Linked DNA regions of Homo sapiens. The protein of the gene in region 2 interacts with the protein of the main gene of each other region in a pairwise test. Each region holds a gene or a part of one and is shown on either strand. Other genes may lie near its edges.

Region 1 (7,035 bases), on a different chromosome or scaffold from region 2:
CCATCCATGAGCATGGGATATGTTTCCATTTGTGTATGTCATGTATGATTTCTTTCAGCAGTGTTTTGTAGTTTTCCTTGTAGAGGTCTTTCAGCTCCTTGGTTAGGTGTATTCCTAAATACTTTATTTTTTGCAGCTATTATAAAAGGTGTTGGGTTCTTGATTTGATTCTCATCTTGGTCACTGTTGGTGTACAGCAGAGCTACTGATTTGTGTACATTAATTTTGTATCCTGAAACTTTGCTGAATTCATTTATCAGTTCTAAGAGCTTTTAGGAGGAGTCTTTAGGGTTTTCTAGGTATACAATCTTATCATCAGCAAACAGCGACAGTTTGACTTCCTCTTTACCTATTTGGATGCCCTTTATTTCCTTCTCTTGTCTGACTGCTCTGGCTAGGACTTCCAGTACTATGTTGAATAGAAGTGGTGAGAGTGGGCATCCTTGTCTTGTTCCAATTTTCAGAGGGAATGCTTCCAACTTCTCCCTGTTCAGTATTATGTTGGCTGTGGGTTTATCACAAATGGCTTTTATTTCACTGTGTTATGTCTCTTGTATGCTGATTTTGCTAAGGGTTTTAATCATAAAGGGATGCTGGATTTCATCAAATGCTTTTTCTGCGTCTACTGAGATGATCATGTGATTTTTGTTTTTAATTCTGTTTATGTGGTGAAAGACATTTATTGGCTTGCATATGTTAAACCATTCCTGCATCCCTGGTATGAAACCCAGTTGATCATGGTGGATTATCTTTTTGACATGCTGTTGGATTCGATTAGCTAGTATTTTGTTAAGGATTTTTGCATTGATGTTCATCAGGGATATTGGTCTGTAGTTTTCTTTTTTTGTTATGTCCTTTCCTGGTTTTGTTATTAGGGTGATACTGGCTTCATAGAATGTTTTAGGGAGGATTCCCTCTTTCTCTATCTTGTGGAATAGTGTCAATAGGATTGGTACCAATTCTTCTTTGAATGCCTGATAGAATTCAGCTGTGACTCCATCTGGTCCTGGACTTTTTTTTGTTGGCAATTTTTTTATTACTGATTCAGTCTCACTACTTAGTTGTCTGTTCAGGGTTTCTAATTCTTCCTGATTTAAGCTAGGAGGGTTGTGTCTTTCAAGGAATTTATCTCCTCTGCGTTTTCCAGTTTATGCATGTAAAGGTGTTAATAGTAGCCTTGAATGATCTTTTGTATTTCTGTGGTGTCAGTTGTAATATTTCCTGTTTTGTTTCTAATTAAGCTTATTTGGATTTTCTCTTTTCTTTTCTTGGTTAATCTTGTTAATGATATATCAATTTTATTTATCTTTTCAAACAACCAGCTTTTTGTTTCATTTATTTTTTGTATTTTTTTTCCTTCAATTTCATTTAGTTATTCTCTCATCTTGGTTATTTCCTTTCTTCTGCTGGGTTTGGTTTGTTCTTGTTTCTCTAGTTCCTTGAGGTGTGACCTTAGATTGTCTATTTGTGTTCTTTCATACTTTTTGATGTAGGCATTTAGGCTATGACCTTTCCCCTTAGCATTGCCTTTGCTGTATCCCAGAGGTTTTGATAGGTTGTGTCACTATTATTGTTCAGTTCAATTTTAAATTTCCATCTTGATTTTGCTGTTGACCCAATGATAATTCAGGAGGTTATTTAATTTCCATTTATTTGCATGGTTTTGAAGGTTCCTTTTGGAGTTGATTTCCAGTTTTATTCCACTGTGGTCTGAGAGAGTACTTGATATAATTTCAATTTTCTTAAATTTATTGAGACTTGTTTTATGGCCTATCATATAGTCTATCTTGGAGAAAGTTCCATGCACTGATGAATATTCTGCAGTTGTTGGGTAGAATGTTCTGTAAATATCTGTTAAGTTCATTTGTTCCAGGGTATAGTTTAAATCCATTGTTTCTTTGTTGACTTTGTCTTGATGTCCTGTCTAGTGCTGTCAGTGGAGTACTGACGTCTCCCACTATTATTGTGTTGCTGTATATCTCATTACTTAGGTCTGGTAGTGATTGTTTTATAAATTTGGGAGCTCCAGTGTTAGGTGTATGTATATTGAAGATTGTGAAATTTTCCTGTTGGGCAAGGCCTTTTATCATTATATAATGTCACCCTTTGTCTTTTTTAACTGCTGTTGCTTTTATGTTTGCTTTGTCTGATGTAAGAATAGCTACTTCTGCTTGCTTTTGGTGTCCATTTGCATGGAATGTCTTTTTCCACCCCTTTACCTTAAATTTATGTGAGTTCCTATGTGTTAGGCGAGTCTCTTGAAGGCAGCAGATACTTGGTTGGTGAATTCTTATCCATTCTGCAATTCTGTATCTTTTAAGTGGAGCATTTAGGCCATTTACATTCAATGTTAGTATTGAAATGTGAGGTACTATTCCAATCATTGTGTTATTTGTTGCCTATATACCTTGCTTTTTTTTTTAATTGTATTTTGTTTTATAGGTCCTGTGAGATTTATGCTTTAAAGAGGTTCTGTTTGGATGTGTTTCCAGGATTTGTTTCAAGATTTAGAGCTCCTTTCAGCTCTTGTAGTGCTGGCTTGGTGGTGAGTGGCAAATTCTTGTAGTTCTGGCTTGGTAGTTCTTGGAGTGCTGGCTTGGTAGTTCTTGGAGTGCTGGCTTGGTAGTGGTGAATTCTCTCAGCATTTGTTTGTCTGAAAAAGACTGTATCTTTCCTTTATTTATGAAGCTTAGTTTCACTGGATACAAAATTCTTGGCTGGTAATTGTTTTGTTTTGTTAGCATTGCCTTTGCTGTATCCCAGAGGTTTTGATAGGTTGTGTCACTATTATTGTTCAGTTCAATTTTAAATTTCCATATTGATTTTGCTGTTGACCCAATGATAATTCAGGAGGTTATTTAATTTCCATTTATTTATGGAAATTAATTATGAGGCTGAACATAGGGCCTCAATCCCTTCTAGCTTGTAGGGTTTCTGCTGAGAAATCTGCTGTTAATCTGAGAGGTTTTCCTTTATAGGTTATCTGGTGCTTTTGCCTCACAGCTCTTAAGATTCTTTCCTTCCTCTTGACTTTAGATAGCCTGATGACAATGTGCCTAGGCAATGATCTCTTTGCAATGAATTTCCCAGGTGTTCTTTGGGATTCTTGTATTTGGATGTTTAGGTCTCTAGCAAGTTTTCCTTGATTATTTCATCAAATGTGTTTTCCATACTTTCAGATGTATCTTCTTCCTCAGGAACTCCAATTATTCTTAGGTTTGTTTATTTAACATAATCCTAAACTTCTTGGAGGCTTTGTTCATTTTTTAAAATTCTTTTTTCTTTGTCTTCGTTGGATTAATTCAAAAACCTTGTCTTTGAGCTCTGAAGTTCTTTCTTCTGCTTCTTCGATTCTGTTGCTGAGACTTTCCAGAACATTTTGCATTTCTGTAAGTGTGTCCTTTATTTCCTGAAGTTGTAACTGTTTCTTATTTATGCTATCTATCTCATTGAAGATTTCTCCCCTCACTTCTTGTATCATTTTTTTGATTTCCTTAAATTGGACTTCACCTTTCTCTAGTGCCTCCTTGATTAACTTAATAATGGACCTTCTGAATTCTTTTTCAGGGAAGTCAGAGATTTCTTCTTGGTTTGGATCTATTGCTGGTGCTAGTGTGATTTTGTTGGGGCAGGTTAAAGAACCTTGTTTTGTCATATTACTAGAATTGTTGTTCTGGTTCCTTCTCATTTGGGTAGGCTATGGCAGAGGGAAGGGCTGGCACTCAAGGCTGCTGTTCAATTCTTTTGTCCCACAGGGTGTTCCCTTGATGTAGTACTCTCCCTGTTTTCTGAGGGATGTGGCTTCCTGACAGCCAGGCTGTAGTGATTGTCATTTCTCTTCTGGATCTAGCCCACCCAGCAGGGCTACCAGGCTCCAGGCTGGTACTGGGGTTGTCTGCATAGAGTCCTGTGATGTGAACCATCTTTAGGTCTCTCAGCTGGATACCAGCCCAATATTTGGCCTGTCTCTCAGGTCCTCCAGGAGCAATATGCTTCCTTCAGAGGGTCTGTGTATTCTCTCAGCTTTCCTGGTATATTCCTGCAGTAGTTCTGGAGCAAAAGCATGATGCAAGTCTCCACATGCTACTCGGTCCACCTGAGTGTGAGCTGCAACCTAATCCTGCCTCCTATCTTGCCATTTTCCCAATAACAGTCTCTCCAGAACACAAGTATTTTAAAAACTAACCCAGTACCATATTCTCACTAATCAAAGATGAGTTAAAATTTGATTGCTTATTTTTATGTTTCTTACATTGAATGTTTAATTAATGATTTTAAATTTTTTTGTGATTAATAGCAAAGATATTCAAGTCCATACATTTTTCTCAAAATACAACTTTAACTACATCTTATAACTTTGGGAGAGCCATGATAGTTATTTTTATTGGTCTTTTACATGAGGCATGGACTGAGGCTGTGTAAGAGAGAGAATCCATTTAGGATTATAAAAGAACAAAAGTAAGAAAAAACAGTATTGCTCTTTCTGAGTAACTCATTGAGATTAAAATCTGTCTCTGAGGCTTCTGTAACAAGCAAGTTTTTCTCTTCACAGAAGCATTTCAGGGGCCTGAGGCTAATGCTCCGCAAAGGATAGGACACCCAAAGAAGATGAGCTCTGTTCTGGGACCAAAAAACTGAGCAAAAATATTTTCATCCTCCTGGTTGACCTTTTTCATAAAAAGTTGAGTCAGCTCATTCTCATCTACATATTAATATTTGATATAACCTCCTTTTGGTAGAACAATCTTAATAAAGGCATCCCTGGTTCAGAGAAAACTTCAGATTTCAGGTCTTGACATTTTTGTCTTTGTTTTTTGTTTTTTTTTTGAGAGGGAGTCTTGCTCGTTCCCCCAGGCTGGACTGCAGTGGTGCTATCTCGGCTCACTGCAAGCTCCACCTCCTGGGTTCACGCCATTCTCCTGCCTCAGCCTCCTGAGTAGCTGGGATTACAGGCGCCCACCACCGTGCCCGGCTAATTTTTTATATTTTTAGTAGAGATGGGGTTTCACCGTGTTAGCCAAGATGGTCTTGATCTCCTAACCTCGTGATCCACCCGCCTCGGCCTCCCAAAGTGTTGGGATTACAGGCGTGAGCCACTGCACCCGGCCATTGTTTTTTTTTTTTTTAACAAATGAAGGTAAGTCATAGAGAAGATTACCACTCACTCCCTATCCCTAGTAGCAAAATGACTGTATAGCCTTATATGTATTTGACTTAAATTTGAAAAACCTTTAGAATACCAGAGAAATTGAAAACTAATACTTCCCTAGTACCTTGTATTATAAAAGAAAACAAACAAACAAAAAACAAGAAAACCCCAAGCTACTTAAAACAATATTTTTTCTGCATAGTAGGTGGATCTCTTTAACAATAGTCCACATGAATTCATCGATACGCCACTCAGAAAATTGAGCCAAACAGACCTGTTGTATACTCTGTACCACTTCTAGGCTTCTCGGGGCATTTGTTGACTTCCCATGGCCTGAACTGTTAGGAATATTAAGAAAGAATGGAAATAATTACCTTCTTCCTCATCTGGCACTGCCAGCCACTGGATCAGGGCAAAGAGCAGTAGGATCACCAAGCAGGCCATGCCAATTCCTCGGAAGGTTGCAGCAGCCCCTATAAAAACAAACAGCACTCTATAGAGTAATTCCAAGAAATGCAGATAGCGCTCATCTAAAACCATCAGTTTTCTAAAGATCAAAGCAAAGGAAGCACAGCTTGAGACAAACCAGAGAAAAGTAGTTGGGTATTAGCTCCACATAATGGAAAAACACAGGGCTGGGTACGTGTCAAGAGACCCAGGGCTGATATTGGATCTGTCATTGATCGATTATAAAACTGCATTTATATAGGATTATCTCTCAGTGCCTTTCACCATGACTCATACAATTCAATGGTGCTCTCCTCTTCATATGAAAAGACCATTTACCCAATTATTAACTAACAGCACTATTAATCTGTAGTTGGAACAGCAGTGCTCAAATAGTGCTATAAATGCACGCATTTCCTGGGGCCCACCTTATATATTAATAGATGACTGAGTAGTTAAGATTCCTGGAGCAGAATAATCTCATTCCTATTTCAGCTCCTATGTTTCTAATAAGGAAGATATGACAAGACAGACAGATATTGTTACCATAAATGTAGTAGCATTACCAAAGCCAGCATATGGTTAGATTCTTCTGGTTCAAAATCTCCTAATGGAATAACAATGATGAATTTTATTTCCTTTAGGGTTATTATCAGCAGGTTTAAGGTACCTTATTTTAGACCAAAAGCACTCATGCTAATTCATTTGTTTGGCTCCTTTGAGGGATCTCTGTAGCATCTCATTAAGCTGATTGTCAGAGGAGTGTGCACAGTTACAGGCTGGCTCAGATCAGCTTAACAACGTAAGCACACTGCTTTACAATTATGACTACCATGAAATCTAGAAAGAGATTATGAATACTGGAATTTAGCTTTGGGCAATCTTCAGTAATAATTGGATTGTTTATTGAGGTATTGCTGGAAAAAATCATGTTTTAATAATAGAAAAGAAAAAAAAGGAGAAAGCCATTCTTACCAAAATAATTGACTAACACGCCTCCGATCATGGCACCACATCCTCTTCCCAAACCCAGGTGAAGGCCCTGCAGGATGCCCTGAGCAGATGTCCTCAGCTCAGGGGGAACGGCTGCACTGAGGTAAGAAATGCATGCTGCCCAGATGGCCGCGTGTGTCACTCCTGGAGAGGAAGAAGAGCAGGAGGGATTAGTTGGTTAGCATTTCTTAGGCTACTCTGTTTTGAAATGTGAATTATTTAACTAGGCACCTATTTTTAAGATTTGTTGTGGGAAAACATACATTAAAAATTTACCATTTTCACATTTTTAAATGTACGGTTCAGTGGCACTGAGTACACTCACAGTGTTGTGCAGCTGTCACCACCATCCATCTCCAGAACTTTTTCACCACCACAACAAAAATTCTGTACCCCTTAAACCATAACTTACACTCACCCCTTGTCCCATCCCCTGACAACCACCA
Region 2 (7,035 bases):
ATACTTAGTTTTATTGGCTGGAAGGCCATAGAAACTATATGTACCTCATAAGGCTGAAATTTTAGGAAAAATGTTTTACCTCAATTAAAATATGTGAACAAACAGCCCAACAGAGCTTAATTATCTACATACCTGTACTGTCATGTAATTAAGTGGAATCAGGTGGTTGCTAGCAGGTTTGAAACATTCAGAAACCAAAATTAAAGATGAGTGTAATTATCGATAGGATTGAGTTGTTTATATTGAATTCTACTAAAATTATACCATGAAATTGAGGTCACTGCAATCACTAATGAAATTTTAGAAATTAAAGTTTCTAAAGTACTTAGAATGAGGCCTCTAAGAGCATCTTACTCATATTAGGCTCATCTTAGGCTCAAAAAGCCTTTGTCGACTCTCTCAACTCATTATCACCATCAAGACAAAACATCCACGCTGTCCAGATACATTTGGAATTTTGATGATTTAGCTAACGGTGAGAAAAACAAACCAAATCTGGATGTCCCTGCCACAAACATTTCCTTCTTTCTCTGCAGCATGATCCATGCCTCTTCCTCTCTGGGCTTTTCTTTTTCCCTTCCCCCGGGTGAACAGATGGTCTAACAGCCACTGGCAAGAATCTCTCACAAAGGCTTTACTGGTAATCCTTCCTTATGGTATTCAAAGTTACTCTAAGAATTGCTAGGAAATGCTTCAATCTGCAGAAGGATTACAGGCATGAAATTTATCCTACAGTTGGAAGAGCTTGAAAGTTGAAATTTAATCAGCCAGACAAAAGAAAAGCAGAGAAAACTCAAGAAATGAGCACCATCTGTTGAGTTCTTACCAATATGGCAATCAGTGTGCAGATGAGGGTTGCCAAGGGAGTCACTGAGGGAAGGACTGTGTGTTGGAACTGCTGAACCAAACCACTTGTCATTGAGGCCTTGGGAATATTGTTGGGATCAAGAAATTTCAATTTCAAACCTATTAAACAGATATTTTGTTTTGTTTTATTTTTATCTTTATTACTGAGATACCATATATTAACAATCAATTCCTTGAGGAATAAAAAGTAAGCTACTAAATCTTATTGCTGCTTAAAGGCTAAGATTTCATGAATTTAATCCTATACTATTCTACCCAAAATGCCTCTGGTCTTAAGATTATAATATATAAAGCAGCTCTTTGCATTGGAACAGGGAATTTGTGCAGCTTATAGGAAACTTGCTGGCAGGCAGCACAAATGGTAATCTGCTCTCACCTCTGAAAGCAAGCTTCTAGAACAGTCTGAGCATGTCATGAAGGAACTTTGAATCCTTCATCTCCTATGGGAGAAACCCTCTATTCCTAAACATAGTATCCAGTGTCTTCCATGATCTCATCGCCCCTTCCCCCCTGTTCAATCTCATCTTTACTTTGTTAAATGCGGCTTGGCCACAATGAAGTAACTGTGAGTCCTCAATATACCACTCTCAACACCTGTGTCCCTCTGCCCAGGCAACTCCCTTTGCCAAATTAACTTCTAATTCAATCACCTGAGAAAGCTCCTAAATCAATAAGCAGAACTGATTTTCTTGTGAGCTCACTTTTTTTTTTTGAGATGGAGTCTTACTCTGTCACCCAGAGACAGAGGCTGGAATGCAGTGGCGCAATCTCAGCTCACTGCAGCCTCTGCCTCCCAGGTTCCAGGTTCCAGCGATTCTCCTGCCTCAGCCTCCCCATTAACTGGGATTACAGGCATGTGCCACCATGCCCGGCTAATTTTTGTATTTTTAGTAGAGACGGGGTGTCACCATGTTGGCCAGGCTGGTCTCGAGCTCCTGACTTCAGGTGATCCGCCCATCTCAGCCTCCCAAAGTGCTAGGATTACAGGCCTGAGCCAACGTGCACAGCTGAGTGAGCTCACTCTAACAGTGTTCACCACAAGGCACTGCACTTGTTTATGTGCTCATTTCCTCTACTATACTGTATTCCTTGAAGGCAGGAATGATGATGAGTTCATTTCTATCCCCAGTACATAGGAGCTCAATAAATACTTGGTTATTAAATAAATCAATTCAGAGAATGACAATACAAGCCCCAACAAGCTCTGGCTAATAGGACAGTCAGAGACAGTTTGAGCACCTATAGGGCCTGTCAAATGCCAGTGAAAATGAATACAATGTGGGAAAGATGTACCAAAATATTTTCTACTTACTAACCTCTTCCCCTTTCCCCTTTGGCCTGCTGATTCTCTCTTACAGCTAATAACTATCTCCCTAAAACAAAGTTGTCTAACTCTGACACTGACTTTCCATGTAAAACATCTTCAAAGACACAAACATACAAGTGAGGGTACAGTACAGCTTCCTGACTCAGACAAGGCAACTGGCCCTTGTACCTCATACTATGCTGGCTGTTTAAAGCTTTTTTTGAAATATGAATGTTAGGAATTACTCTGTAAGAATGCCATGTACATCAAGGCTAGATTCACAGTGAGCAACACGGTGACACAATGTATAAGTCATCACATAGGCAGTGTATGATCTCCTCCAAGTACTTATCAAAAACAGTAATAGTGGCCACCATGCATGGAGCGTCTACCATGTGCCCAGGGCTCTGCACTTACTACTTTTAGCCCCCTGAGGTACAGAGATGGAGTAACCTGCCCAAAGTCACACAACTAATAGGTGGTAAAACTGAACTCAGGTTTGTCTGGCTCCAAAGTCTCTGCTACTGATAACCTAGTACTTTTTAAATTTTGCTTCTGTTCCTCACAACACACTGTATAGGTACAGGTAAAGTACTAGTATGTCTTTCGTATAGTGAGGAAAGTTAGACGAAAGGAAGCAAATGACTTGTCAATGCCACACACTGCAATAGCAATTTACACAGGTGAGCCTCCAAACCAAGTCATCAGACTCTAGGTCTGGAGTCCACAAACTATAGGCCAACAGCCAAATGTAGCCTGTGCCCAGTTTTTGCACAGCACTGAAGTATGAATGGTTTTTACTTTTATAAGGTTTTAAACAAATGTGTGCATACACAAATACAGACACAGACACACATACACACACACACACTGTGTGTGGCCTGCATAGCTTAAAATATTATCTGGCCAGTTACAGAAAAAGTTTGCTGACCACCACTCTTGATCATGCCATTTTCCCACCAAGCTAGATTGTATTCACAAATGAGAGACTGTGTTATCCAGAGTGAGTTATTTTTAGTAGAACCATCTCAAACCATAACTTATTTTTCATTACGACCCAATTTTAAAAACCATAGCCTGGGTTTTTCATTTCTTCTCACCTCATGTTAAAATGCAGGGTTATTTTCCTTACTGGTTTAATACCGAGAGTCACAACTTACATATTCTTCTTTCTTGTATGTTTAGGTTTAAAAGTGGGGTAGGCCAGGCATGGTGGCTTGTGCTGGTAATCCCAGCACTTTGGGAAGCCAAGGTGGGAGGATCATTTGAGACCAGAAGTTTGATCCCACTCTGGGCAACATAGTGAGACCCTCATCTCTAAAAAACAAAAATTTAAAAATCAGCCAGGTGTGGTGGTATGCACCTGTGGTCCCAGCAACTCAGGAGGCTGAGACAAGAGGACTGTTTGAGCCCAGGAATTTAAGGCTGCAGTGCACTATGATCTCAACACCATTGCACTCCATCCTGGGTGACAGTGAGACCCTGTCTCTAAAAATAAGTAGGGGTTTGAATAGGAATGGTGAGAAGGGGGGAAAAAAAGCAGGGTTAACTGCTGCTGCTGAATAGTTTTTTAATTAAGGCAAAAATTACCTTTATAGAGTGTCTACATATTTTATTTTTTCCCCAGGAAAGGATCAATAACCTCATTACCACAAGGAGCTTTTATAAGGAAAACAGTCTGTTTACTGCACTAAAGCCTCAGTCCCAAGAACTGCTCCCCCTGTTCATCCTGAAAGCTGAAATGCAGGACTGGAGAACAAACAATTCAGCCACATTCAAAACACAAAGGTTTTTCCATTTCTCCATGTGCCTAAGTCCTTTCAATATTCAGAGTCTGAGTAAAAAATGCTCGCTACCATACCGATGACAGACAGCACTTTGTCCAAAGCATTGTACAAAGCCCAGAAGTTTGGAGCCCAATATGCATGACAGAGGCCCCTCTTGAAAGGAAAGAGTCGGGAAAAGACTTGAGGCAGCTGATTCTGTTGAAAAGAGAAATGAAACTGATTAAACAGTCATCAATCTTTTTCAAATTCAAAAAGAGAACTAGGGAACTCTCTATGGTATAGTGTGTAGAAAGTTATGGGGTCTGGGTTCTAGTAAGTAAGTGGTTATATGCTCACCACAATGTAAGTTCACAGAACCTTCTTTTGGTCTCACTTTGTCCACTGTCCAGTGGGACAATATACATAAAAATACTCTGAATACCCGTCCATACTATTATAATAACAGAAGAATTTACAAGCTACAAAGCAGAACACAGACTGCAGCTTATCCATGTCTACTAGGGTGAAGGGGAGAGCTGGGAAACTACAAAAGATGTGACGCGTTTCAGTTTTAGTAAGAATTAAAATTAATTAGTTGATTTCAGGGCAGGGAAGAAGAGGAAGAAAGAAAACATCTGAACATCTGTTAAATTCTATGCACTTTAGAATGTCTGCTGTCCATGTAAGACTGCAAAATTATTGATTTTGTTACAAATACATTTTATCAAGTAAGTAAACTTACAAGTACAGAATACACAAATAATGAAGATCAATTCTGTGTTTGTGTATGTGTAATGTACAGTTAAACATATACATGTATATATATATACATATTTGAATGTGCACAAAAATGTCTGAAAGAATACTACCTTATCGGGCCAAGAGCGGTGGCTCATGCCTTTAATCCCAGCACGTTGGGAGGCTGAGGCAGGTGGATCACCTGAGGTCAGAAGTTCGAGTCCAGCCTGACCAACATGTTGAAACCCTGTCTCTACTAAAAATACAAAAATTAGCCAGGCATGGTGGCATGTGCCTGTAATCCCACCTACTCAGGAGGCTGAGACAGGAGAATCGCTTGAATCCAGGAGGTGGAGGTTGCAGTGAGCCGAGATCACGCCACTGCATTCCAGCCTGGGCGACACAGTGAGACTCCATCTTAAACAAAAACAAAAAAAAAAAAGGAATACTGCCCTATCTTTGGGGAGTCACGTTGGGTAAGGAGTAAGAAAAAAGTAGCTTTTACTTATTTTACATATTCCTGGCTTTATTAGGTTTTCTAAACACCAACAAAGAACATGTATTAATTGAAAAAAAAAAAAAAAAAGGCTTACCAAGGCCAGGAAAGGACCCAATGAAAGAGCAGAAACTAAGAAAACAACCAGTCCCAGGGAAATAACACGAACAAAGCTGAAACTCTTCCATCGAATAGACCCATCTACAGAAAAGGAACATTATCAGTAACCAGGAAGATGGAAAGGAACATTAACCATAACCTATATCATGTGCTAAAACTAGAAGTATCCCACAATAGTATACCAATCTATTCATGATGTGGCAAGAGCAGAGAAAAGCGAGAATGGGTAAAGGGCTTACAGGATTAGCAGCTGAGATATCTGCTGTGCTTCATAAAACCTTCTTATCAAGCAAGCCACCAAGTCAACACAGTAAGGGAAAAATCGAAAATGTTTTTGCTATTATTACCAAAACTTGCCTGGTTTATTTGCAGTGAAACAGTAGGATCGCAGCAGATATACACCATAAGCTGGTGCTACATAGAGGTAGATATGCTTGAAATGTAGGAGAACAGCAAAGAGAAATGCTCCTTCCATATGCCTTTTCTAGGAGATTTAAAAGGGAAATATCACTTTAAAATTCAGGGTAAATGAAATGCAATAATGTGGTATTCTAGATTGAATCCTGGAACAGAACAAGGACATTAAAGGAAAAACGGGTGAAATTCAAATGCATCAATATTGCTTTCTTAGTCTTGATGAATGTACCATGGTTATGTAAGGTGGTAATGGGGGAAAATGGGTGAGGGATATATAGGAACTCTCTGTACTATTTCTACAACTTTTCTGGAAAGCTAAAATTATCCTACAAAAAGGTTATTTAAAAAACTAAAATTAGGCTAAGTGTGGTGACTCACACCTGCAATCCCAGCACTTTGGTAAGCCGACGTGGAAGGATTGCTTGACCCCAGGAGTTCAAGACCAGCCTGGACAAAATAGGGAGGCCCTGTCTCTACAAAAAAATAAAAAATAAAAAAAATTAGCTAGGCGTGATGGCTTGCACCTGTAGCACCAGCTACTCTGGAGGCTGAGGTGAGAGAATCTGCTTTAGCCCAGGAGGTGGAGGCTGCAATGAGCCATGATGACGACACTGCACTCCAACTTGGGTGACAGAGTGAGACCCTGTCTCCAAAATGAATAAATAAATAACAAAAATAAACAATACCTACTTTTTTAAATTTTTATTTTATTTTATTTTATTTGAGATGGAGTCTCCCTCTGTCTTACCCAGGCTGAAGTGCAGTGGCACAATCCTGACTCACTGCAGCCTCCGCCTCCTCGGTTCAAGCAATTCTCCTGTCTCAGCCTCCCGAGTAGCTGGGACTACAGGCGTGTGCCAACACACCCGGCTAATTTTTGTATTTTTTAGTAGAGACAGGGTTTCACCATGTTGGCCAGGCTGGTCTCAAACTCCTGACCTCAGGTGATCCACCTGCCTCGGCCTCCCAAAGTGCTGGGATTACAGGCGTGAACCGCCATGCTTGGCCCAAGGTAAATATTCTATAACCAGTATAAGGAAAACATAGGCAAGTGATTCCAGCTAGCTTTTTTTTTGAGACGGAGTTTTGTTCTTGTTGCCCAGGCTGGAGTGCAATGGCACGGTCTCGTTTACTGCAACCTCCACTTTCCGGGTTCAAGTAATTCTCCTGCCTCAGCCTCCCAAGTAGCTGGGATTACAAGTGCCCACCACCACGCCTGGCTAATTTTTTTGTATTTTTAGTAGAGATGGGGTTTCACCATGTTGGCCAGGCTGGTCTCAAACTCCTGGCCTCAACTGATCCACCTGTCTCAGCCTCCCAAAGTG

The links. The genes of interacting proteins can lie anywhere in the genome.
Region 1: the proteins of ALG8 (region 2) and MFSD6 interact in binary tests that used the Homo sapiens proteins (3 or more experiments, as listed by UniProt).

Annotation. Positions count from the first base shown.
Region 1 is NC_000002.12:190,488,355-190,495,389, reverse strand, and holds part of MFSD6 (major facilitator superfamily domain-containing protein 6), read right to left. Parts: intron 6,734-7,035; coding exon 6,572-6,733; intron 5,623-6,571; coding exon 5,524-5,622; intron 4,777-5,523; exon of another isoform or gene 4,572-4,776; coding exon of another isoform or gene 4,553-4,571; intron 1-4,552.
Region 2 is NC_000011.10:78,108,616-78,115,650, forward strand, and holds part of ALG8 (dolichyl pyrophosphate Glc1Man9GlcNAc2 alpha-1,3-glucosyltransferase), read right to left. Parts: intron 6,184-7,035; coding exon of another isoform or gene 6,091-6,183; intron 5,778-6,090; coding exon 5,651-5,777; intron 5,375-5,650; coding exon 5,271-5,374; intron 4,156-5,270; coding exon 4,035-4,155; intron 967-4,034; coding exon 827-966; intron 1-826.